4 separate regions of the Homo sapiens genome follow, and all the other regions are reported to be linked to region 2. Evidence: microRNA targets listed by miRTarBase, many of them from high-throughput screens and not tested one by one. Region 2 holds a microRNA gene; each other region holds the end of a gene's coding sequence.
The links. Region 2 holds the annotated microRNA hsa-miR-505-5p (GGGAGCCAGGAAGUAUUGAUGU, at 4,800-4,821, opposite strand). A microRNA usually pairs through its seed, bases 2 to 8, with sites in the 3' UTR of a target mRNA and lowers its output. Matches are read on the target gene's strand: a 7mer-m8 pairs with bases 2 to 8, a 7mer-A1 pairs with bases 2 to 7 and ends in A, and an 8mer does both.

Region 1 (7,373 bases), not on the chromosome of region 2:
GTGCCCATCTGAATAAACAGGGAGGCTCTGTTCATAGTAGTCCCTCAGTAACCCAGCCTGATGGAGCAATCACCATCTCAAATATGACAAAGCACTACGACAAACGAAAAAAATTCTAAAAAGTTTCACATCAACAATTATATGCTCCAAACCAGAAGCCACTTTCACTCACAATGCACTGGCCAGGAACTAGTTACATGGCCACACATACTAGAAATATTTGGTGAACTGTAGGAATGAAAATCACATTAGGTTTTTAAAAATTAATAAATAAAACTGACTTTGAAGAGGTGAAGAAAAAAAATCTAGATGAAAACATCAAGTCTTAGAAGTTTATGCCAGGACAAGAAGCTTTCCGCTAGTATTGTGGTAAGAGAATTTTCCATTTTTACCTACAAATACTTAAGTATTGTTTTACTATTTTTCTATAAAGAGTATGTTAATATAATAATGGATATTTTGGCTGGGCGTGGTGGCTCACGCCTGTAATCCCAGCACTTTGGAAGCCCAAGGTGGGTGCATTACCTGAGGTCAGGAGTTCAGGACCAGTCTGGCCAATATGGTGAAACCCCATCTCTACTAAAAAATACAAAAATTAGCCAGGCATGGTGGCCGGCACCTGTAATCCCAGCTACTCAGGAGGCTGAGACAGGAGAATTGCTTGAACCTGGGAGGCGGAGGTTGCAGTGAGCCGAGATCGTGCCATTGCACTCTAGCCTGGACGACAAGAGTGAAACTCTGTCTCAAAAAAAAAAAAAAAAAAAAAAAGGCCGGGTGCGGTGGCTCACGCCTGTAATCCTAGCACTTTGGGAGGCCAAGGTGGGTGGATTGCCAGAGCTCAGGAGTTCGAGACCAGCCTGGGCAACACAGTGAAACCCTGTCTCTACTAAAATACAAAAAAATAGCAAGGTGTGGCAGCGTGCACCTGTAGTCCCAGCTACTCAGGAGGCTGAGGCAGAATTGCTATAACCCGGGAGGCAGAAGTTGCAGTGAGCCGAGATCATGCCACTGAACTCTAGCCTGGGCAACAAAGAGAGTCTCTTAAAAAAAATAATATTTTTTGATTAAAAAACTGAATAATCTTCAAAAAATTGCAAATTTGTAATTCTAGAACACGAAATAGTAAGAAATGTGGACCAAGTTTATAAACTAAGTTCCACTGTAATGGTTACAATAATGAAAATTAAAGAATGGTTATAAAGGTATGATATGGACTATATGAAAATATAAAGTAAAAGCTGGCAAACTTTTTCTTAAAGGGCCAGATTGTACATAACTTAGGCTTGTGAGCTACATGGTCTCTGTCTTATATAACTGTGCTGTTGTAGTGCAAAAGTAACAAGAGACAATATGTAATTAAATGGTATGGCTGTTCTAATATTTTGTTTATAAAAATAGGTGGTCAACTGTGGGTCATAGTCTGCTAACCCCTAATATAGAGAATCAAAATTTTTTTAAGGAAGTGGAGGCCGGGCGTGGTGGCTCACGCCTGTAATCCCAGCACTTTGGGAGGCCGAGGCAGGTGGATCACTTGAGATCAGGAGTTCAAAACCAGCCTGGCCAACATGGCAAAACCCCCGTCTCTACCAAAAATACAAAAATTAGCCAGGCGTGGTGGCAGGCACCTGTAATCCCAGCTACTTGGGAGGCTGAGACATGAGAATTGCTTGAACCTGAGGGGCAGAGGTTGCAGTGAGCTGAGATTGCACCACTGCACCCCAGCCTGAGTAAGAGCGAGACTCCATCTCAAGAAAAAAAAAATGTTTTTATGGCACCAGATAAAGATGAAATATTTTAAAAGTTTAAAACTGGCCCAGCATGGTGGCTCATGCCTGTAATCCCAGCACTTTGGGAAGCCGAGGCAGGTGGGTCACCTGAGGTTGGGAGTTTGAGACCAGCCTGACCAACATAGAGAAACCCAGTCTCTACTAAAACTACAAAATTAGCCAGGCATGGTGGCACATGCCTGTAATCCCAGCTACTCAGGAGGCTGAGGCAGGAGAATTGCTTGAACCTGGGAGGCGGGGGTTGCGGTGAGCCGAGATCATGCCATTGCACTCCAGTCTGGGCAACAAGAGCAAAAACTCAATCTCAAAAAATAAAAAAGTTTAACAGCATACTTTATACTTCTCCAAATCTCCACAAACAGCATGCTTTACTTTAATATTTCGGGGAGAAAAGTCATTTTAAGAAAGATGTTGGAGTGAATCAGCAATACAGTCAATTTTTCTATTCTGTTTTTGGTAAAGTCTAATGATCCTAGATGTACCTGGGGCATTTTCCAGAAACCAAAATCCAAGGTAACTTCTGTGATCAACTATCTTTCAAGCCATTAACTTCTGCAGCTACAGCATCCCTTAAAGTGTGGCCCAATAATCTTCATAATAATGGCACACTGTGCCATCAATGAAGACCAAATTATGTGTAATATATTTTTTAAAAATAAAGGCAATTTTACGGTACTTTTAACAAGCAATTAAAAGTTAGCAAGAGCTAATTATAAAAGTAATTTCACCCAACATATCTCATTTCTTAAAGATGTTATAGTTGTTGCTACAGATGTGTTTAGTTCCTCACAAATGATCTGAGTGTATCTTTTAATTTGAAGCTTTCAAGTTGAAAATTAAATATTGTCATGGCTTTCAAAAATCTATTCATTTTGTCTACGTTGATCTGCAGATGTGCATCAGTCAAAAAATAGTTATGCATCGCTTAATGACAGGGATCTATTCTGAGAAGTGCATTGTTAGGCGATTTCAGCGTTGTGTGAACATCATGGAGTGGTCTTACACAAACCTAGATGGTATTGCCTACTATACACCTAGACTATATGTCATAGTCTGTTGCTCCTAGGTTGCGAACCTGGGCAGCATGTTACTGTACTAAATACTGTAAGCAAGTATAACACGATGGTGTTTATCTAAACATAGAAAATGCACAATAAAAACATAGTATAAAGATAAAAATTGTACACCTATGAGTACTTACTATCAATGGAGCTTTCAGGTCTGGAAGTTGCTCTGGATGAGTCAGTGAATGGTGACTGTGAAGGCCTAGGACATTACTGTACACTTGGGCTAAATTTAAAAATGTTTTTCTTCAATAATAAACCCTAGCATACAATAACTTTTTTACTTTATATATTTAAAATTTTTTTACTTGACTCCTGACACAGGGTCTTGCTCTGTCCTTCAGGCTGGAGTACAGTGGCTTGATCATGGCTCACTGCAGCCTTGAACTCCCAGGCTCAAGTGATCCTCCCACCTCAGCCTCCTGGATAGCTGGGACCACAGGCAAGTGCTACCATGCCTAACTAATTTTTTTTTATTATTTTTTGCAGAGACGCAGTTTCACCACATTTTCCTGGCTGGTCTCAAACTCCTGGGCTTAAGCGATCTGCCCATCTCGGCCTCCCAAAGTGCTAGGACCACAAGCGTGAGCCACTATGCCCGGCCTTTTACTTGACTCTTTTGTAGTAACGTTTCGCTAACAACACAAACATTTTACAGCTGCACGAAAGTACCTTCTTTATATCCTATTCTATAACCTTTTTTTACTATTAAACAAAATTTTTTTTACTTCTTAAACTTTTTTTAAAAAAACTAAGACACACACACATTAGCCTAGGCCTACATGGGGTCAGCATTATCAAGATGTCACCAGGCAAGAGTAATTTTTCAGCTTCATTATAGTCTTATTGGACCACCATCATACATGGGGTACGTCATTATGTGGCGCATAACTGTACTTAAAAGATAATTGTTTTTCCTCTTAAGTTTAGAAATAGGTAAATCAACTGTTTCACTTCTTAGCTGAGTAAACAAGTCTTACTGTTGTAATAGTCTAGTAAAAATAAAACACTTGCAATCCTCTTCTAGTGCATACAAACTTCCTATTTCATTATAGTATAAAAAGTAGTCTTGTCAACCATGAAGTCAAACAATGACCTAACAGAAGCCTACAAAAATGTAACGATATTAAAACTTCAATAATTATTTTATAAAGTGTATCTTTACATGATATACTATCTTGCCTATTAATAAAAATGATTCACAACTCCTTGAGGAAAAATCCCCTTTCTTCAGGTTAAGAAGTCTTTGATTCCATATGCATTTAACAAGCAATTAAAAGTTAGCTAGAGCTAACTATAAAAGTAATTTCACCCAACATATCTCATTTCTTGAAGATGTTATAATTACAATTAGTATCATCCATAGGAGGATTATTTGCAAAAAAAGAAATATTTTAAAAGGAAATGTTTAATATAAATGCTAGTAACTAGATGTAATGGAAAAACAATAACTTAAGAATCAGATCAAACTGGGTTCAAATCTAGGCTTTGTAACCCTAGCCAAATAATTGCCCAGATATTTGGTTTCCTTATCTTTTTACTTCTAACCAAAATAAAGTGACTCACCTCTTGTTAGTTTCTTTCAACAAATGTTTAGAATAGTTCTTTAAAAATTCATGGGGTAAAAAAAATTTATAGTTTCTTCCTTAAAACACTGAAGAGATGGAAAGGGGAAGAAATAACAAATAAATATGGTATTCAGATTTTCAATATAAATTAGCAGTGCATCCTACAAAATAAATATAATGATTCTTGATGTTATTAAACTGCACTTATAATCCACCATAATCCCGTTGTTTTAACAGGGAACTATAACATACTAAGGTGTCTTGATAGTTCTTAGGCAGTCACTAGAGTGCATCACTGGCTTTCATATTCTTATCAAAGGAGTTTAAGCACTACAAAGCAGGAGTAGGCAAACTATAGTCCATGGGCCAAATCCAGCCAACATCCTATTTTTGTAAATAAAGTTTTACTGGAACACAAATAGGTTCATAATTTACATATCATCTACAGTGGCTTTCATGATACAAGGCAGAGTTGGGTAATTGTAGCACATGGCCCACAATTATTTACTGTCTGGCCCTGTAGAGAAGGTTTCCTAACCGCTGCTCTAAAGCACTGCTACCAAAGGTTTGGTTTGCATACCTGGATTGGTTGTTCCTGATTGGAGATAAGGAGATTGAAAGAGAATGTAAACCAGCTATGGTACCAAATACAATTCTTAATTCAGCTATTTTTTTTTTCATTGCCAGACTTTCTCAATGAAGCACTTACAGTCCAGTATAGGTTCCTTTTCTCATAGTATATAGGTACAAACAGTTCATTGACCTGCTACTTTGAATACCACTACTCAAAAGGTATATGGGGGCTGATGTAGCAAAGCTCCAAAGGGATTATGGTGTCATAATGTGATAATGTGGCAACAGACTGAATGAGACTCACAAGTGGTCCTTATAGAGACAGGCGTTTTTCCTAACCCTGCTCTTCTAAGGTTTATATTATTCCAAAAATCTTCCATGATACAGAATTACATTTTAACAAGGTGAAGGATGAGAGCTAATGGCTCCCTCTCTCCCTATCTTTTCTTGGGAGCAGGAAAGATAAAAATATTAGCTCTCCTCCCCAAAATACTCCAAATAATTCATAATATATTTTGCCTATTTAGCCTCTTTAAATTGTTGGGCAGATAGAAAAGTATAATATTAAATTCTATTTCTCTTGAAGTAAAAGAATTTATAAAGCAAATCTATTCTCATAAATATTAGCAATATTGTCCCCTGTACTTTAAGTCCTAATTTAAAATAATGTATCAGCAGTTAAAGAATGTAGAATGGAATCCTCACCACTAACACTGATATTAAATTTCTTGAACAAGTATATAATTTCTAAAGGCACCAAAGGTAATCTGAATCAAGCAGTGATTGGAAAAATAGAATTATTCGGGGGCAGATTTTTATTGCAAATATTTACTCAAAAACTACTATATACAGCAGAGTATTTTAATCGCCATTTAAAACATTGAACATTCAGTGAAACAAAATTTAAGAATCCAAAGCACATTTTAAGAAGTAAAAATGAAGCATTTTAAATAAAAGTTTATTAGTATTTCAAAGCAAACTACTGTTCTTCATATTATTCATTTCTATATCTATTATATTCTAGATGATAAAAAGAACTGAAAAATCAATTTAGCAGCCATCTTATAGATAAATTAGGCTAAATTTCCAAAACCAGTTCTTTTACATCACTGTTTTAGGTCCCATTTGAAGTTTTTATTTTACAATTACAGAAAAGTCACTTAAACATGGCTGAATACATGCCAGGACATGTTTTCAGTTTACTGCTTTACAATATCTACATTATACCATACTTTGGTTTGGCTTCCAGACCATTTTTATGGGCCTATTTCTAAGGAAGATCATTAAAACAATATTAAAAGCATAATAGCTACAGGAGTTTCAACAATGGGTTTCTACTTTACATTAATACAACTAATACATCAAAGAATTTCTACACAGCTTACACACTGACAAAAAGCACAAATATAAATTTATATCTTAATAATTCCACTTTCACTGAAAGTTTAATTAAGGTAAGCTTACAGCCTGGCAGGCTAACACTTGTATGGAGGTACAAAGATTCAAATATTCTGTTTACATGCGTCTGACTGGAATGTTATATTAAATCCAAAATTAAGTTTATGTTCATCCAAATTCTCATTAGATCAATTTAGTACTCTAAGCATGCTCCATTTACCAGCATCATCCTCACAAATAAAGCCTTCATTAACAATGCCAATCAGCCATTGTTTTTAATCAATTACTCCCCAAAAGTACATGGTTTCCAAATCCCTTCCTCTCAGTTAACTGAAAAGGATATACAGGTAATAAAGATTTTTAGCTTAGGATTGATGGAAGTTTGAAAGGCTTTATAAATATTACTAATATCATCAATTCATGTCAGCAACCAAATCCCATTTCCTTGAAAACCATTAAATGAGACCTTTCCACTGCAAATTTAATTATCATTAAAATCCTGTTCGTGTTTTTAAAAACTTTTTGGGAATCCCTACTAATCATGCTATTATTGGTGAATTGATTTGTTTGATAACATAGGTTGAACATACAGGTAAAGTGTATGTGTGACCTCCCTTACATATTTCCATTTCTGAACCTACAACAGCACCACTGAGCTCACCTGATAGCACTGTTCCAAATGCCCTTATCGTTGGTACACTGAAACTTAAAATGACTAATTTCAACTTCTTTCTTTTTCGTCTTCCAGGTCTACTGTTGCCTCTGTTGTGCTAGGGTTATTTCCTCCAGGAATGTCATCTGTTTGATCAGACACTACTTCATCAGTCTTGGCTGAAGGATCACCACTACCTTTCTGAAGAATCTCTGTGGCTTCATACTCAAGTACCTCGGATGGAGTCAGAGGTTCCAAATGAATACTGCCTTGCTCGCTAACATCAGAACTAACAGATTCAGGTTCATGTCTTTTTCTCAAAAACTGATCA
Region 2 (8,068 bases):
GGCGGAGGTTGCAGTGAGCAGAGATCGCAGCACTGCACTCAAACTTAAACACACACACACACACACACACACACACACACACACACACACACACACAAACTACTTATTTAAGTGAGGAAGAACTGAAGAAAGCAGTTTGGTAGTTCCTGAAAAGTTTAAACATACAATTACCATATGACCCAGCAATTCCACTAATATATACTCAAGTAAAAACATATTCATTTTAAAAAGCAAAAAAATGTGCCAGGCACAGTGGCTCACACCTGTAATTCCGGCACTTTGGGAGGCCAAGGTGGGCGGATGACCTAAGGCCAAGAGTTCGAGACAAGCCTGGCCAATATGGTGAAACCCCATATCTACTAAAAATACAAAAATAGCCGGGTGTGGTGGTGCACGCCTGTTGTCCCAGCTACTCAGGAGGCTGAGGCAGGAGAATTGCTTGAACCTGGGAGGCGGAGGCTGCAATGTGCCATGATGGCGCCACTGCACTCCAGCCTGGGCAACAGAGTGAGACTCTGTCTCAATAAAAAAATAAAAAAGAAAGGACAAAAATGTTCGAAGAAACATTTTTCACAAGAGTCAAAAAGTGCGAACAACCCAAATGTCCATCAGCTGATGAACAGATAAATAAAATGTGCTCTCTCCATAAAACGGAGTATTCTCTGCCTTCAAAAGGAATGAGTCCGGGCGCGGTGGCTCACGCCTATAATCCCAGCACTTTGGGAGGCCGAGCCGGGCGGATGACCTGAGGTCAGTTCAAGACCAGCCTAGCCAACATAGCAAAACCCCGTCTCTACTAAAAATACAAAAATTAGTCGAGTGTGGTGGTGCGTGCCTGTAGTCCAAGCTACTTTGGAGGCTGAGGCATGAGAATCGCTTGAACCCAGGAGGCACAGGTTGCAGTGAGCCGAGATCATACCACTGCACTCCAGCCTGGGTGACAGACTCCACCTCAAAAAAAAAAAAAAAAGAATTAAGTACTGATACTGATACATGCTACAACATGAACAAATCTTGAAAATATTACTATGCTACACCAAAGAATTCAGTCACAAAGGAACACATATTGTATGATTCCACTGGCAATCCAGAGATAAGAAAGTAGATGGGTGGTTGCCAAGGGCTGAAGGATAGAGGACTGGGACTAAGAGCTAACGGATGGGGTTTCTTTTTGAGGTAGTGGAAATGTGCTGGAATTAGATAGCTGTGATAGTTACACAGCATAGGAAATTTAAATCCACTTAAGTGTATACTTTAAAGTGGTGAATTTTATGTTAGGTGAATTATCTCAGTTTTTAAAAGTGAATGAAAAAAAGTGAAAGAGAGAGAGCAATACCAGCAAAGTATTTAACCAGAAATCAGTCGAAAGTCAATGAAGTGCTCCTGGTGTGCGTCTGTAAAAGATCCCCCTGGAGCTGTGTGGAAGACAGATAGGAGAGGGCAAAGGTGGATAATAAAATAATCAATTGCAAAGGTCCAGGTAAATGACAGCAGTAGCTTAAACTTGAATGGTGGTAGGTGTGGGCATGAAGAAAGGTGGATGGATGTGACAGCATTTTCAGAAATAGAACCTACTGGATTCTCTGACAAATGTGATGAAGGGAAAGGTTAGTATTAAGTATGACTGCTAGGTTTTTAGCTTGAGCTACTAGGAGGGGGATGGTGCCATTTACTGAACGGGAAAACTGGAGGAGGAACAAATATGAAAGTGGAGAGATGCTAATGACTTAGACGAGGGTGGCAGTCATGATGATAAAGAAAAGTGGCACTGACTAAGCATGGTGTCGTGATGAACTGGTTATGAGGGTGATATGTGTCCCCACCCAAATCTCATCTTGAATTATAATCCCCATAATACCCACCTGTCAAGGGAGAGACCAGGTGGAGGCAACTGAATCATGGGGGTGGTTTTCCCCATGTTCTCGTGATAGTGAGTGAGTCTCACGAGATCTGACGGTTTCATAAGGGCCTCTTCCCCCCTTCACTCGGCACTTCTCCTTCCTGCCACCTTGTGAGGGTGTCTTGCGTCCTAATTGCCTTCTGCCATGATTGGAAGTTTCCTGAGGCCTCCCCAGCCATGTGGAACTGTGAGTCCATTAAACCTCTTTCCTTTATAAATTACCCAATCTCAGGCAGTTCTTTAAAGCAGTATGAAAATAGACTAATACAGAGGGAATGAGATGCAATTCATGTTCTGGTAAGTCCGAATGATGCAGTCAGATCTGAAAGTCTATCAAAAGCTTTCTTATCTAATAGCAGTGAACTATAAATGTGTTGGTAAGGAATGTGCTCCTGAAAAAAGGCCTGATCTCCAGCTTTTTAAATAAATGACCACTAGTACTCAAGAAAATGAACTGCCATCCTGTCTCCCATGTGTAGTGAAAGTTACCAGAAATGTGTACCCATAATTTAAGCAGGGTAACTAAGTAAGCAGTCCTATAATAATATATGAAGTAGTGTCATGATATATTACCCCAAATATATATTTCATCCTGGTCTCTGCCTTACTGTCTCTGCACCAAATAAGGCCGGGCATGGCAGCTCACGCCAGTAATCCCAGCACTTTGGGAGGCTGAGTCAGGTGGATCACTTGAGGTCAGGAGTTCAAGACCAGCCTGGCCAACATGGTGAAACCCTGTCTCTCCTAAAAATACAAAAATTAGCCAGGTGTGGTGGCACACGCCTGTAGTCTCAGCTACTCAGGAGGCTGAGGCAGGAGAATCACTTGAACCCAGGAGGCAGAGGTTGCAGTGAGCCGAGATTGTGCCACTGCACTCCAGCCTGGGCAACAGAGCAAGACTGTCTCTCTCTCTCTCTCCTTCTCTAAATATATATATATATATATATATATATATATATATATATATATATATGCATTTTTTTTAAATGACATAAATTTACTGGAGTCATAGGTTTCAGAAAAGAGCATCTATGTATGGGAAGATTCCTATAGCTATTGTTGTGGAGACCTAAAGCCACCTGTTTTTAGCATCTCCTTTTTTAAAATCAAAATTACTACAGCAAACGTAAGGCATTGAAGATCGAGGTTTTGGTGTTTCTGCTGTGTCATGGACAGGATGTTTGTGTTCCCCTAAAATTCTTATGTGGAAATCCTAACTTCCAAGGTGACAGTACTAGGAGGTGAGGCATCTGACAGGTGATCAGGCCATGAAGGTGGAGCCCTCATAAATGGGATTAGTGCCCTAGGGAGCTCATTTCACTCTTTTTCTGCCATGTGAAGATACAATAAGTCACCAGTCTGCGACGTGAAGCCCCCTCACCAGTACCCAACCATGCTGGCATCCTGATCTTGGACTTCCAAGTTCCAGGATTGTGAGAAATAAATTTCTGTTGTGCATAAGCCACTGAATCTATGTTATACTTTTTATTTGTTTTGTTTTGTTTTTTTGAGGCAGAGTCTCGCTCTATTACTCAGGCTGGAGTGCAGTGGTGCCATCTCTGCTCACTGCAACCTCCACCTCCCTGGCTCAAGCAGTTCTCCAGCCTCAGCCTCCCGAGTAGCTGGGATTACAGGTGCTCTCCATCACACCTGGCTAATTTTTGTTTTTAGTAGAGATGGGGTTTCACCATGTTGGCCAGCCTGGTTTTGAACTCCTGACCTCAAATGATCCACCTGCCTCAGCCTCCCAAAGTGCTGGGATTACAGGCGTGAGCCACTGAGCCCCACCTGTTATACTTTTTTTTATAACAGCTCAAACTCATTTGGGGTTGGCATGTATGTTCTCTAAATTGACTGGTTCCCATGCTTTAAGTACAACAATGACCCTGCACCATTGCTCAGGTAATTGCCTCCTCCTGTAATGAGACTGCCCATCCCTAAAATCTCAGAACCTTCAGCCCTTTGGGTCCCCAGAGGCCCAGTTGACAGGCTACTTCCTCCATAAAGCTCTCCCCAAGAAATGAAGCCAGAGAGCCAGTGCCTCCTTCTGAATGCCTACTGCACTTACTGTGTATGTCCTTCAAAAGGATGGCTCTGGTGACCTACTGGCCTTGTGTGGAGGATGGTCCTGTGTGCTGGTCTTCTCTCTCTTCTACCAAACTGCAGGCTACTGGTGAGCAGGGCTGTACCTTACACACCTCTACAGCACCAAATAGGGGATGAGTGTTCCAAGAAAGCTGTGATTCACATGAATGTTTTCAGAAAAGAAGCCAGAATAAATTGTACACTATACTATAGATCCCTTAATCCTTATTACTGCAAAATACATTAATTGTGAAGCTTAAAGAACGTCCCCACTGCTTACACAACAGGTGTAGCTTACATAATCTGCTCTACCCAGCTGTTACTTACTTGTGGCAATTCCCTCCTGGCTTCTACTCCCTGTCGATATGTGGGATTACTGCACCATCCAGTATGATTTCCTTATTCCTTGCTCCAATCATAACAAATTTGTTAATTTTCCTTTATAACAGTAAAAATGGCTGAAACTCCAAATAACCAGAGATATCCCTAGGGTTTTCCATGACTATAAAACTCAAAAGACAATCCAGGATATAAACCAATATTTGTAAATATTGCCATAAAATTCATTGCTCAGAATTTTTTTTTTCCTATATAGTCTTCTTTGACAAAATACTGCAGTATTCCCACCATTTGGAAATTGTGTTACCCAAAAGGTATAGAATGGGATGAAGTGATGATGCAAATGAGTATTAGGACTATGAGCAAATGAATGGGAGCAGTAACAAAAGTCCAAAAGTCAGGAAAAATGAAAATCCACGAACTTGGCGATGCTCCAGAGAGGAAACCAGCAAGTGTTGACGCTAAACTGGCAGAAACATCAATACTTCCTGGCTCCCCCACTGGGTGCATCAATTTACCACCGGCAGGCTGCTCTTCTGCTTCAAGTGACAAACAGTAAGTGCTTTCAATGACAGTATGAAAAGGAATGACCCATAATCTAGAAGCATGGCTATGGGCAGCAAAGAAAAGATGTGATTGCTGGGAGTCTGTCTCAGCTGTACTGCTGATTAGCTTAATGATCTTGGACAAGTCATTTCCTTTCACTGAAAAAATACCAGTGTTTCACAATATTTGCGTGATGGAAAGAGTTAACATAGCAGGCCTGACACTGCTATTCTTAGTAAGGCCTGTTTGCAAGGTTGGTCCTTGGCTGGTGTCTGGGGACTTGGATTTTGGGAGGGTTTCCATCACCCTGATAAGAGTGGCTCACTCTGCTTAAGCTGTGTAAACAATAGGGTTTACACTGAATACCTGCTTTCCTCCTTGGGGTCTGGAATTTTGCTGTGTACCAGGTGGAGGGTGCCTGTGTGACCAGCTCCCACTAAAAACCCTGGGTACTGAATCTCTAATAAGCTTCCCTAGTAGACATTTCACACAAGTTGTCAAAACTCATTTGCTAGAGGAATTAAGCATGACCTGTGTGATTTCAGTGAAAGAGGACTGGAAGCTTGCACATGGTTTCCTCCAGACTTGGCCCCAATGAGCCTTTTCCCGTTACTGACTTTGCTCTGTATCCTTTTGCTATAATAAATCACATCCGCAAGCGTTTCTATGTACTGAGTTCTGCCAGTGAATCAACAAACCTAGGCCGGTTTTGAGGACCTCTGTCACAATTGGTATAGTGTTGAATAGTCTACCAAACGTTTTTTTCAACAGTCTTGTGAAATAGGTATTATTATTCCCATTCTATCGATGAAGAAACTGAAGTTCAAAAAGGTGAACAGAGAGTGTGCCCAGAAAATAAATATTTCCGTGTTTACTATATTATATATTGCTGTTCTCAAATTTTAGTGAACCTAAGAACCACTTGGAATGCTTGTTAAAAACAGTTTCTTGGAGTCTGTCACCCAAGACTTGGATTCAGTAAGTTCAAGGCCCAGGAATCTGTATTTATAGTAAGCATACAGGATTATTATTATTTGAGATGGAGTTTTGCTCTTGTTGCCCAGGCTGGAGTGCAATGGCACGATCTCGGCTCAGTGCAACCTCTGCCTCCCAGGTTCAAGTGATTCTCCCGCCTCAGCCTCTCAAGTAGCTGGGATTACAGGCCTGTGCTACCACTCCTGGCTAATTTTGTAGCCCAGTCTGAAATGCATAAGCTTCTTGGTGGCTGCTTCCTAAACTGATCATTCTTCATCTGTTATTACTGACTCAGACTGTGTTACCAATTCAGCTCAAAACAATTAAACAAGTATTAATTGAACATCTACTGTTTACCTGATGCTGTGCTAACTGCAAGATCATTTTCAAGAACACTTCTGATTTTTCCAAGAATACCTTGGTAAAGAGAAAGGGACTAGGAAAACATTGCCACATTAATACTTTATGACAACATATAATAGAGACGTCTAAAAAACAAATGATGATATCTGCTTGAACAGCAATATCATCAACATCACCAATCCTCCCATATTCCATTAAATACATATGGCACAAGAAATCAATGATTTCTACTTCACAAATACAGGTTAACCTTCTAAATCTGGAAATCCACGGTCCATTATCATTTATAAATCACATCTTCTATTATCAAGAAGTCAGCCGACCCAGTAATCCGTCCATACACTGCAATAATTGAGGGGCTGTCTGCCAATGTGTGGGCATAGGGCATCCTGTGCCCATATCTGCAGTGCTGAGCACTCATTCATCATTAAGCTGCAGCAGTGTTAACATATGCTGCAGTTGTGCCAGTATGTTTTGTTTTACGATCACCGCTAATCTACCCTTATACCAGGCCAAGAAGGTAAATGTTAAGTGAAAGGAAATAAACTCGAGAGCCAGCACCTAATTCATTTGTGGAAGCCCAGAACCTCCCTCCACCTAACCAGAAAAACTCCCCCAGTCTCGAGGGTTCCAGATGTAAAAGGTTCATCTGTATAAAGCACTACAGATGTACAGGAAATTCCACCACCTTGAAGAAAAAAATAGTATTTTTTTTTTATATCCCATGCATTCACCCTCTTTGAGAGAACTGAATAACCATGTTAGACAAGCAATGAGCCTTGATTTTTTCCATCACTCAACAAACCAGTATTTGATTTCACTCAGTGGGCTAGTTCTTTGCACATCATGCAGACACAGCAAGGTTAGTTATGGTTCTTTCAGGGGCCACTGGCCATCCTTTACCTCCTAGAACCCACTGCTCAGCAGGTGGTAAACTGGCAGCTTTTTGAAAAAACAAGCTCTTTTGAACAGTTGCATCAATATAAAAATGGCCAGCTTCACCTGCCCAAATCTCAATTCAGCTAAAAGTTAATTAGGAACACTGGAAACTACCTGGTATATAGGCACTCAATATTACTCACTAAATGGCTGAATTATTAGCAATAAGCATAAACAAAAGGAACAAACAGTAAACACTTACAGAAAGTATTCAGGACACATTCAGAGTTTTATGTTGCTTAGTCACTAAAAGGTAGATCAGGAAAAAAGAAGACAAAACCTGCTTTCACTTGTGTAAAGATTTATTTCAAGTTACAGTGGTTCATTTCTAAATAAGTTTCCCACCTTGCGTGGGGTCAGCCTAGCATCTATTTGCAAAAGAGCAGTTTGCCATGCGTAGGTCAGATGAAAGGAGACAAATGCAAGAAACTCCTTTTTAACTGACATCCAAACAACCAGAAAATAACTGATATTGTACAATCTATTTTTAGTAGAAAGAAAAATGACAAGTATGTAATAGTAACTTATTCACAAAGATCAAATTTCATGGTATGTCACAAATGTATTCAATGCAATGCAGTTACCATGCCCTCTATATCTATAGTTGTGTATGTAATGATAATTACAGCTCAGGAAGACAGGAACCTTGTCTGTCTTGCTCATCTACGACCCCAGGATTGACTGCAGTGCCCAGCACATAGTAGGTGCTCAGTGAATATTTGCTGAATGATAATTGCTCTGCAAAACCATACAATGCCTTAATCATCTAAGAAAGAGGCCAGGCATGCTGGCTCTTGCCTGTAATTCCAGCACTTTGGGAGGCCGAGGTAGGGAAATCGCCTGAGGTCAAGAGCTCGAGACTAGCCTGGCCAACATGGTGAAACCCCGTTTCTACTAAAAAATACAAAAAATTAGCCAGGC
Region 3 (8,068 bases), not on the chromosome of region 2:
ATAGGTTTAAAAATGCCTAGTGATGTGGCCCACTACTTGAAAGGCCAAGGGCTCTAAATCCCAGCCTCTGTTACTCCACAGCTGGCTTTTTTTTTTTTGGTCATAATATGTCTCACTGCTTCCCTGGATCTGGAGGGGTACAGAAGGGGTAGGAAAGGAGGCTGCAGACTAGAGTTCAGAGATGAAGGAACTACTGTGAAGATACAGCCAAAGTATAGCAATTGAACTGTACATGTGAAACGTATGTAGCTTTGCCTGAAGAACTGTTTAGATTTTATATTGCAGTGTTGGGTAGAATTTTCCCCAAAACTTAAAATTTTTATGTAACAAAAGATAAAATTTCAGTAACCCATAGCTTATAAAATCTCAACTCTAGTTTGTACTCACTTGCCTGCTGCTTATTACCCAGGAAAAACAGTGCTAAATTACTAAAAGTTTGTCAAAGATATACAGACAAATGTTTTTCAAAATAAGGATATGTAAGTGAATAGTGTTTGTATGAAGTGAGTTTTTCTAACACTTCTGTCTCTCAGTTCCACAAACCAGAGTCACTGCCTGCTGTGGACCCTGCTTTCCTGGCTCCTGTGATGGAGCCCCAGAGTAGTTTGACTCTAGGCAGTTTAAGGCTCTGCAGTTTGCAATCACTACTAATGGAGAAATTCATTTTCCCTGCAGTTTAAAGCTCATGCATCATTCTACTACCCTCTCTTATGTGAAATTATGCAATTTGACTTGATTCCTGAACTTCGTGCTGTTCTTAGAAGATTTTTTCTGCGAATCGGAGTAGTTTTTCAGATATCACAACCACCTGAACAGGAACTTGGAATAAACAAGCAATGATGGGAACTTAATATTTTTGTTGGCATTTACATCCCTCTGCTCTTTAAAAGGACGCTGGAGCTGAGGTTTCCTACCTGAAAAATGATTTCTCTGGATTGCAGTGTCTGAGTTACTGGTAAAGATGCTTAGAAGTCTTACTCAAACTTGCAACACTCCAGTCCCTTTTAGTGCTGGTGGATTTTGTGTGTTATATTGGCCTCATGTTGAGCAGAAAGCCTGTTTAAACAGTGTCAGCTCATGCTCACGGGTCCTTCCCTGTCTTCCACGGCAGGAAAAGCCCCACGTTTTTGGCAGGTGTGGAAGTGAAACTTACCCAAAGAACTATAGATGTAAAGATTGAACTTCTACAAGAAGTACAACTCAGGAGAGCTGTATTTTGAAGGATAAAATGTTTATAATTGGGGAGTGGGGAGAGAAGAAGAAATTATTGTTCATGGTAAAAGATATTTAGCAACTATGGTATTCTTATTCTGAAGATTTTTGCACACTCAGGCTATCTGAGATACTGGTAATCATCCTGTGAAAAATGTACAGAGATGCAGGTCTGTAATATAAAAATCTTAAAACATTATATAGTTCTTCCTGCACTGTTTTCTTTATTTTCTTATTCATTTGCTAAATACCCATAATATTTTGTCAAATGCACTAAACATTTGGGTGGAACTTTCTTTTTTATTTTATAGGGATTTTTAGTTTTGCCCTTTTTGGTAGGTGGTGATTTTGAGGCTGTAACATGCCCAGAAGCTGTTGTGGCCGACACTTCAACAATAGGGAAAAAAAGGTAGAAAATATCCCTACTGACAGTAACTACCTGTCACATATTTCTCTTAGGACTTTTAAAGATGAGCCATTAAAATAGAATGATCCTTTATGGACCAAAACTTGAATCACTGCAAAATGAATCCAGATTGCTGTCATTTTCTTTTCTTTTGGGTGGTGGGGCTTGATGTAGATTTTACTCTATGTACAGAATTTAACGTTGAATATATTAAAATAACAAATCTGGCATGGTTTGCGGAGGTTAGATTTACTGGAAATGTATTCATACTGTGAATTGTGCTCTGATGGTTAAAAGACAAGATTGTCAAGCATTCCGTATTAACAGTGGATGTAGAAAATTTTTTCAGATGGACAAAATGTATATGGTACAGATGTAAAGTTTTCTATGTAAAAAATTCTGTACAACTTTCTGTACAATATTGATTCCCATCTGGCATATTCTAATCAGGTTATAGGTCAATAAAGTTTTTGAATTATTTCATCAGTGCAATCAAAACCTGTATAACCCACCCCCATGTTTCATTGATTCTGGTCTATTAAGGCTGAACAACTATGGAAAAGACATTTTCAGCCAGAACTACAAATTCAATATTGTTTGGTTCTGGTATTTTCTTTCCAGCTTCTAGCATTAGATCCTCCTTACACTGTACTTACCATAGGATACTTATTTTTAAGGCAATTTTTAAAATTTTTATTTATCTTTTAGAGACCGGATCTCACTCTGTTGTCCAGGCTGGAGTGCAGTGGTATGAGCACAGCTCACTGTAGCCTCAAACTGGGCTCACGATTCTCACACTCCACCCTCCCCAGTAGTGAGGACTGTAGGCACACACCACTACACTTGCCTAATTAAAAAAAAATTTTTTTTTTTTAGAGATGGGATCTCACTATATTGCCCAGGCTGGTCTCAAACTCTTGGACCTGAAGTGATCCTCCCAACTCAGCCTCACAAAGTGCTGGGATTATAGGCATGAGCCACCATATCCAGCCCAAAAATCTTTTAATATTTTTTGCATATTAATAACCTAGCATCAGGCTACACTACTTGAATGCTGAAAAGAGCTAAAGTTCTCTTCAGCACAGTTTGCAATATTGTGTGTTCGAGGAGTCAGTTGAAGTTGTGTGGTACATGGCATTAAACAAAAAGGGAACGTGTCAATATCATCTAACATGGTTGTGTTAAAGAGGAAAAGTATTCAGTCTTTGCTTTCACACCTCTCTTAGATAATGAACAGTTACTGAACAATGCATTTGTAAGTAAGTGTGCTGTATTTGTTACACCCAAGACAGCTCTAGCTGTGTTCAAGCCCAGCTGGATGCTAGAACTGCGAGCCACTGTGACCTTGCCGTGTGAGGGTAAGTGCTCCACACAACCTGGCAGTTGATTATTTTAATGTTGTAGTATCAGGACTCTTCCCCTAGAAGAGTCAGAGGCTTTCTTCTTACTTTCAGATGACAACAGAACAAATTTTTACGAGTAAAGCAAACAAACAATGGTCCGATTAGAAAATCAAATAAAAATTTACAAGTAGCCAAAACTCAAAATATCAGTAATTTAATTGTGGCAAATTTGTCTGATATTGTCTACCAACCGTTAATTACATCAGAGGAAGTATTATTAGAGAGAGAAGCAGTGCCTGGGGATGTTCTCAGCTGTCATGGTTCTGAGATTCTAATCTGAGTCAGAATGTCACAATTATTTGAATGACTCTTTCCTTTTTTAGAAGTATCACTTACTGAGTGATTAGAAAACTCACATGGACTCACTTATCCAAGGTTCCATGGTGGAAGAAGAAGACTCCAGTCTCTCTGTCCTTGACTCCCGGGTGTCCCCACCTCTATTCAACCTCTAGAAAACTAGTCTAGAAAGCTCCATAGTAGTTAAAAAGATTTTAGTAATTAAAATAAAAATTTATTTATATCAAGAAGTAGTTACATCATGTAATTAGTAACAAGACAAATGCCTTCATTGGCATAAAAATAGAAGCAGAAAGATGATGTAACAAACATTTAACGTATGGCTTACAAAAATACAAGTAATTACAGTTCCCTTCATTTCTGCTGTATCAGTAGCTACAAATGACATGAAATAATAATTAATTAATAGGACATTTGATTGCATCACACAGAAACTGGAATAATCACAGCTACAATAGATGTACCTACTAAATGAATTCTTTTGCATCGAGGTAACAATGGAAAATGTGCATGTAACAAAGGGGAGTCCGGTTTTACAGGACGTTTAAGACACTTATTCACCTTATCTTAATGACAAGCAGAATTCAATATAATGCACATATAGTAGTTCAATCCAGTTCATTACCACCCTAATTTATGACAAAACTGTGCAAAAATAATCTATACAATTCTATTATATAAATCAATAATCATGGCCTTTTATTTATGTACATAATATACATCATGATAAAAATAATTTTATATACAGATGATGGAAAAAAAGTAACTTTCAGGTAGGGGCCAAAAGTAGGACATATTAAAGGTACAGATTTACCATTCCTTTCACCTTAAAAGGCACTACTGGGTCCAGTACAGGTTTATTTTAACCATGTGCAGTCGACAGGCCCTGCCAAGTGAAAGTGCCTGGTTTTCCAGGAATCTGCTGCTGCTCCTGGTTCAGCTGCTCTGCCATGAAACGTTTCAGCGTTTCTGAAGTGCCAGGGCGGAGCCAGGGCTCAGTTGCTACAGAGTTTGATCCGTCATCCCCTATGTGTTTCATGATGTCATCAGGGTCAACCAGTGAACTCTCATCATCTACAGGAGGCAAGGGACACGTGGCTCAGGTAACACAGGTGGCAGGCAGGAGACATAAGCGCAGGTCTCTTGTAGTCCAACTCATTACAACTCAGCATTTCCCCACAGTCTCATATCCTGAACTCTACTGTTTGTTTGTTTTGGTTAGACTCACCCCACCCCACCCTATTTTAGAGGGAGGAGAGTGGGCCCACAAAGGCCAATTTTGTAAAACAAAAAATGATCAACTGAGTAAGCTGACTCCATGGCACTAGCAACCAGAGGGATTCTAAGCATATCAAAGGCACCTCTCCATAAAACAAAGTCAACAGGAGGAATGTAGGTAGTCTTATTTTGTAACTGTTACCTCAGGAGAAGCCTAATGGCTACACATAAAATTTCTTTCTTTTTTCTTTTTATTTTTTTTAAAGCAAGGTTTGGGGAATACTCTTCAACCTACAACACTGCTATAAGGAAATTATTAAGTTATTTTGGGAAAACACTAGTTGGCATGAGATTACTTCCATTCTTAAAACACCTAATCTAACAAGGCCGTGTCCAGTCAATGAAGAGGTAGCTCTTGCTTCATTCTTTAATTGAATCTGATTGATTGTACGCAACTTCTATCTGTATTTTACTTTTATTTATTATTAGGTATAATAATAGGAAAATCTGTCTTCCTACCCTGTGATATCATATTCTTTTTTTTTTTTTTAATTCTCCTGGTCTGTGAAGGATTGGTATGTGCAGTCAATCCACATAATAACAAAAAGCTCCTGTTTGAAAGGACAATGTTAAAAAACAGTGTAGACATTAAAAACCTTCTGAAAAAGATTCTTAAAATGCTATCTTCCCTCAAATATATTCCTGTTAAATATTAATTCAGTTTGTTGGGTCTAAAAGAAAATGCCTTATAGCTGGAAAGACATCCTTTCCTACTGTCCCATCAATTAACCATGTCTGCTTTGTGTTTGGTGTGGAATTACCACCATTAGAACACACCACACCTTGACTGCTAGATAGATAGTATATGAGTACAGTTTTAAATTAACACAGTATTAAAGGTAGGATCTAAAAAAATCTTAACAGATTATTGTAATGTAGATTAACAGACTAAAGAGTATTTCCCAAATAGACCACTCCAGTAATTTGCTAAAACTATTATTATTACCAATATGAAAGTGTCCCATTATCCCGGTGACTAATAGCACTGGTATAGAAAAGGGTGGTGTAGGGCTGGCAGGGTAGCTTGTTAGGTGTCTAAGGAACCATCCTGCCTTGTGCTCTATGACTAGCTTTAACCTGCAAGTCACAAAAATGCACTCATAATGAGGAGACGACTAGCTTTATTTGACTTCTGAGACTTTGTCCATGGTGTGGAAAGCCAAAGAAGAAGGTAAAAATTTTCTTTGTAGTACTGCAAATATACAGCATAAGTGTTAAAGAACTCAAAGTCTTTAGGCTAATTTCTAATAATGTTTTACTTTAGTAAAGTGATTACTATTATCATATAGCATTTTCTTTGCTGAAAGCAAAGCCTGGATATGTTTAATAAGCAAAAACTATTTTACCTGTTTAGACTCCACTCTAAAATGGGCACCCTCTCTGATAGAGAAAATCTGATGCAAACTGCATCCTGAGGTCTGGTTTTGCTCAATAGTTACTATGTCTTGGGCCATACAACTCAAAGGTCTTCAAACTCATTCCATCTATCCCTCAGACGTTAGTGAAAGCCTTGAGTAAGAAAGTTTAAAAGTTCATACAGGATTCTACTATAGGCCATTACACTTGGTCATTTACCTGTATTAATAGGTTTATTGTGAAATTCATTCAGTCTTCGCATTCGTTCCTCATTTCTCACTCTAAGCTCATCAACATTTACACTGGATATAGATTTTAGAGAGAGACCATCTGGTGCTACATTAGGACGACTGCTATCCTGTAGTTAGAAAACAGAACTTCAGAAAGTCATTAACACAAAATATGTTCACAAATCAGTGAATCAGGGCCAGGCATGGTGCCTATCACCTGTGATCCCAGCACTTTGGGAAGCCGAGGTGGGCAGATCACCTGAAGTCAGGAGTTCAAGACCAGCCTGGCAAACATGGTGAAACCCCATCTCTACTAAAAATACAAATTAGCTGGGCATGGTGGCAGGCGCCTGTAGTCCCCGGCTACTTGGGTGGCTGAGGCAGGAGGTGGAGGCTGCAGTGAGCTGAGATTGTGCCACTGGACTCCAGCCTGGGAGACAGAGACTCTATCTCAAAAAAAAAGAAAAAAACCAGCAAATCAAAACATCCTCTTGCCCTCAAATGTACACTGTGATGAACAAAATAAAACATGAAAATATAGAGCACGTATATTATGGCTCCTATGCTTATCCATGCAAGCTCAGATGACTCTCAAGGATAAGGAGTAACATTTGTGATGACAGAAATGCTGCCAGTCAGGATAAAGCTTGAGAATTATAGGACACAAAAGGAAAAAACTGAAGCAGCAGGGGCTTAGTCCAGCTATAATCAAGACAGTGTGGTACTGACATAAGAAAAGACATGTAGATCAATGGAAGATTAAGAAGAATATAGAAATAAATCCTTACGTTTATGGACGGAGTTAACAAAATGCAGTGGGAGAACAGTCTTTAAACAAATGCTGCTAGAACAACTGGATGGCCACATGCAAAAGAATGGACTTGGACCCCTGCACCTCACACCCTGTGCAAAAATTAAAGTGTATCATGGACCTACAATTAAGAACAAACTGAAAGAAAACAAGTAAATCTTCATGATCTTGTGGTTGGCAATGGTTTCTTAATTAAGACACCAAAAGCCCAAGAAAGAGTGATGAGTTGGACCTCATCAAAATTAAAAACTTCTGTGCTTCAAAGAACACCATCAAGAAAGTTAAAAAGATACAGAATGGGAAAAAAGATCTGAAAATCACACATTGATAACTAGACTTGTAGTGAGAATGTAAAAGAACTCTTACAACTCAATAAAAAGACAATTCAATTTGAAAATGGACAAAGGGCTGGGCGCGGTGGCTCATGCCTGTAATCCTAGCACTCTGGGAGGCCGAGGCAGGTGGATCACCCGAGGTTAGGAGTTCAAGACCAGCCTGGCCAACATGGCGAAACCCCAACTCTACTAAAAATACAAAACTTAGCCAGGCGTGTTGGCATGCACCTGTAATCCCAGCTACTTGGGAGGCTGAGGCAGGAGAATCCCTTGAACCCCACTGGGGCAGAGGGTGCAGTGCACTGAGATCACGCCACTGCAATCCAGCCTAGGTGACAGAGCAGGACTCTGTATCAAAAAAAAAAAACAAAAAAAAAAACAAATCAGCAAAGGATTTGAATAGACATATCTCCTAAGAAAATATACAACTGGCTAATAAACCATGAAAAGATGTTCAATATCATTACAGAAATGCAACTCAAAACCACCATGACACCACTTTACACTCAATAGATGGCTAAAATCAAAAGACACTAAGTGATGGCCAGGATATACAGAAATTACAACCCTCAGTGGATGATGGGAAGGTAAAATGGTACAGCCACTTTGGAAAAGTCTGGTACTTCCTCAAAATGCTAAATACAAAGTGTCCATATAACCCAACAATTTCCTTCTAGGTATATATATTCGAGAGTAATAAAAACATCAGAAACTTCTACATGAACATTAATAGTATCCAT
Region 4 (4,266 bases), not on the chromosome of region 2:
CACAAAGGGCAACTATGTGAGAAGTGGATATGTTGATTTACTATAGTAACCTTTTTACTATGTATATCAAAACATCATGTCGTACATCTTAAATGTTTACAATAGGCCGGGCACAGTGGCTGACGCCTGTAATCCTAGCACTTTGGGAGGCTGAGGCGGGTGGATCACGAAGTCAAGAGATCGAGACCATCCTGGCCAACATGGTGAAACCCTGTCTCTACTAAAAATCCAAAAATTAGCCGGGCGTGGTGGCATGCACCTGTAGTCCCAGCTACTTGGGAGGCTGAGGCAGAATTGCATGAACCCGGGAGGCGGAGCTTGCACTGAGCCGAGATTGCACCACTTCACTCCAACCTGGCGACAGAGTGAGACTCCGTCTCAAAAAAAAAAAAAAAAAATTACAATAAAAAATGCTGATTCTCAGCAAAGTATCACTATACTTTGAGAAGGCAAGACTGTATGTCAAGCATTTCTGAAAGATGTCAAACAAAAACTCCTGAAGTTTCACTGAAGTGCTCTCTCTTGAGATGTATGGTGAATGAGAGAATCTTGTACTGAGAAACACACCACTGACTATAAACTACTGGCAGTATGATGAATTTACTACCAGCAAGCCAGGGCCACTGCTGCGAAAACAAAGTCAAGACTAGGAGAGATTATCATAAAAAGAGTGAAGGAGGCCAGGCATGGTGGCTCACGCCTGTTATCCCAGCACTTCGGGAGGCTGAGGCAGGAGGATTGCTTGAGCCCAGGAGTTTGGGACCAGCCTGAGCAACATAGTGAGACTTCATGTCTACAAAATAATAATAATAAAAAGCCTAGCATGGTGGCACACACCTGTAGTCCCAGCTACTTGGGAGGCTGAGGTAGGAGGATCGCTTGAGCCCAGGAGGTTGAAGCTGCACTGAGCCAAGATCACACTACCGCATTCCAGCCTGGGCAACACAGCGAGACCCTACCTCAAAAAAAAAAAAAAAAAAAAAAAGTGTGAAGGACATTGACTAAGAGCTCCTTGAGAAGCTAGAACACATAAAGACCCGTGCCTATAGGAAATATTTCTTTCTTTTTTTTTTTTGGAGACAGAGTCTGTCTCCGTCGCCCAGGCTGGAGTGCAGTGGTGCGATCTTGGCTCACTGCAAGCTCCGCCTCCTGGGCTTCCGCCATTCTCCTGCCTCAGCCTCCGGAGTAGCTGGGACTACGGGTGCTTGCCTACACGCCTGGAGAATTTTTTTTTTTTTTGTATTTTTGGTGGAGACGGGGTTTCACCGTGTTAACCAGTATGGTCTCGATCTCCTAACCTCGTGATCCGCCCACCTCGGTCTCCCAAAGTGCTGGGATTACAGGCGTGAGCCACCGCGCATGGCCAACTATAGGAAATGTTTCTAAAGAGATCTAAAATTGACAGTCAAAAGGTTATTATGAAAGGCTGGACTTAAATTTTTTCCCCGTAGATACTAGGAAATACACAACTTATTAAGTTAAAGTCTACGCTTACACTTAAGTCACATTTTTTAAAAAGCCACTAAAATCCCATGCTTTAATGATATTAGTACACAATTCAAAACACTGTACCACGGTATCCCCTCACTGGTACTCAGAACACAAATGAAACACATCTTGATAAAGTAAATACCTTCCTATTTGGAATGTGCAAGACATAATTTACTAAGTTGATTCTTTTCAACTATTAGGGACTGAATTTTATTCTCAAAGAGATGATCACAGAACATGAGAATTAAACAAACCTTCCTATAAAAGAAATGGATGCTTTTATTCAACCTGAGTTAAAACCACAATGAATCATATCAGAGTTCATGGGAATCATAATAAATGACTAGTAAACCACTCACAAAATCAAAGCTATCAACATACTAGGATCACACACATTAATTAGTGCTATAGTTCAAAACATACCCTTTAACTTATTTAGCACGCAAAATAATCATAAAAGTAATGTCTATAAGCTCTAACCAAAAATTTTAAAAATTAAAAATAGCACAATTCTACAATTCTGATTTTACCAAGAAAATAAACCTTTTTTGGCACATATTATCCTATGAAAATGGAAAGCTGAGTCAGGCTGCTCTGCTTTTCACAGCACAAATAAGCATTCATGCTATCAGACTTGGGAAATTAACTCGGTGACAAAAATTCACTGGAAAATAGAATCCTTGGAAAAATGGGGTCAGGTGCCATCCACTGTGAGGCAATGATAATGTGTGTCCTTCGTTATTAGCACAAAGTTAGGCAGCACACTATAATTTTAGCTACATGCAACTCTATAGGAACACATGTGGGTAAGGCCTGAAAGTTACAAGCAAGAGTGAAAAGAACTGCTGTGTTGGGACTGAGGAATGATGGGTGTTTGTTTTTCTTTAAATGTCATTTCACCTTTTAAAGGAAAATAAATCAAGTAGGTAGGTAAAAATTACTGAACTAAAGAGATACTAAAGATCAGAAGACTGGCCAATTGAGAAAATCAAGTTTCATGATTAAGAGTGACTCAGGAAGGATGTCTTAGTTATGAGGGGGGTGGTGGAAGACAGTTTATATCTTTGGGTATTTATGGCAGGTCAGAATTAAAGATTTAACTTTTTCCCTTACTCTTTACATAAAAAGCTGGTTTATCTGAAAAAAGTATCAATCTAGACTTGGCAATAAAGTGGCACTTAGGCACTATATTATTGATATCTACAATGACCTCCTGGATGCACAAGAGACCCTGAAGGGCTTTTTTGATCAGCAAAACAAAAACAGAAAAGCAAAAAACAGTTAATTTTTGTTTGGTCAAGTTTACTCAACCAGACCACCTTGATACCAACAATGCTGGAGAGCATTTGGCAAGAGCAGGGCCACAATGCCAAATTCCTTGGAAAGGTAGACTTCCTATGATACTTTCATGGATTGGCAAATTTGTGGGGTTTTTTTGGTAGTAGCTTTTGAGAATGTTAGTTTCTGGCTGGGGTAGTGACTTACATCTGTAATCCCAGCACTTCGGGAGGCGAAGGCAGGTGGATTGCTTGTGCCCAGGAGTTTGAGACCAGCCTGGGTAACATGGTGAGACCCCATCTCTATTTTTATAAAATTAAAAAAAAAAAAAAAGATAGAGAATGTTACTTTCCTATAAAGCCATGATACCCTAAGTACTAAGACATGTCTGTTGTTGTCCTTTCCTTCATAACATTTCTCATAACCCGTAATTTACTTCTCATCTGTCTCCCCTAAAAGGGCAGGGGCCTTGTCTATTCTGTTCATTACCATATACCCAGCACTTAATAATGTCTGGTACATGTAAGTGTTCAACAAATATTAGTTGAATGAATAAATGAAGTATGAATGAATCTCATACAGCTCAACAGACCTGGGGGAAAAGTGAAGACAAACAAACAAACAAACAAAAAAAAAAACAAAACCCTAAAAAATACTTAAGGAAGACAGATAAGCAACAGTTCTATCAGTTGGGGTTATGAGACTTGATGCCAAAAAATTTACCATCATTCACAACTGACAATGGTTGTTCAGAGATTCAAAATATCTGAAAGATTTCAACTGAAAGTTAATATAAAACAGTGTTCTCTGGAAGACTCATGTACAAATAAGTTAATTAAGGGCCTGTTACTAAACCAAGATACAACAGGAGCCTAATGTTTTGTTTGTTTCAAGATGGAGGAGACTCTGCTGCATACACTTGGAGGTCTAGATTTCCATAGAGGGCACGTAGCATATTGAGGACCTTTTCTTGAATAGTGTCAACTTGGTCAGAAGGACAGTAATCATCCAGACTTGACCTAGAACCAACAGAAAGAGAAAGAAGAAAAATACACATAGGATAAAATCATACTGTGAGGAAAAGCTGCATGTGTTCATTTCAATGTAAAACAGAAATTAAGGTGTGCTGAACTTTGGATTAATATCAATTGAAAGCTAGTGAAGGTTTACCCCATGTTAGTCACCTTACATAAATTATGTTCTTTAATTTTCACAGCAACTCTATGAAATAGGCACAATTACTATCCCTTTAAAGAAATCTGAAAGAGATTAACCTGTGCAAGGTGACATGCGGTGTGTGCCTTAATGCTTGATTGCTAGACCATTGTTTGCCTGAAAGTGAGATGTTGCTTGGGAATACAGGGGCTTATTATCTTAGCGATGGAACATCTTTTATTATGTGTGTGCTAGGGCTAGAAATGATGAGGGTCGAGGTTTTCCAACTGATAAAAGGATCCTATTTCTAAAAATGATTTGTTAACTACAAAATTATAAAGG

Region 1: miRTarBase lists ZNF280D as a target of hsa-miR-505-5p. The part of its 3' UTR that is shown has no 7-base or 8-base seed match.
Region 3: miRTarBase lists CSPP1 as a target of hsa-miR-505-5p. The part of its 3' UTR that is shown has no 7-base or 8-base seed match.
Region 4: the mRNA of C5orf22 is a reported target of hsa-miR-505-5p. The part of its 3' UTR that is shown has no 7-base or 8-base seed match.

What each region holds. Positions count from the first base shown.
Region 1 is chr15:56,624,387-56,631,759 of GRCh38, forward strand. ZNF280D (zinc finger protein 280D) reads right to left here. Exons shown (of 22, transcript NM_017661.4): 22 at 5,790-7,373. The coding sequence ends at 7,112. Among named protein-coding and RNA genes, the nearest start is that of ZNF280D, 110 kb to the right of the region's middle.
Region 2 is chrX:139,919,397-139,927,464 of GRCh38, forward strand. It overlaps MIR505 (microRNA 505), which reads right to left and starts at 4,835; the gene lies at 4,752-4,835. All of the region lies in intron 1 of ATP11C (ATPase phospholipid transporting 11C (ATP11C blood group)), which reads right to left.
Region 3 is chr8:67,191,706-67,199,773 of GRCh38, reverse strand. It overlaps CSPP1 (centrosome and spindle pole associated protein 1), which reads right to left. Exons shown (of 31, transcript NM_001382391.1): 30 at 6,172-6,310; 31 at 3,160-4,392. The coding sequence ends at 4,181. It overlaps ARFGEF1 (ARF guanine nucleotide exchange factor 1), which reads left to right. Exons shown (of 39, transcript NM_006421.5): 39 at 676-2,116. The coding sequence ends at 840. Among named protein-coding and RNA genes, the nearest start is that of CSPP1, 130 kb to the right of the region's middle.
Region 4 is chr5:31,552,295-31,556,560 of GRCh38, reverse strand. It overlaps C5orf22 (chromosome 5 open reading frame 22), which reads right to left. Exons shown (of 9, transcript NM_018356.3): 9 at 1,508-3,788. The coding sequence ends at 3,659. Among named protein-coding and RNA genes, the nearest start is that of C5orf22, 22 kb to the right of the region's middle.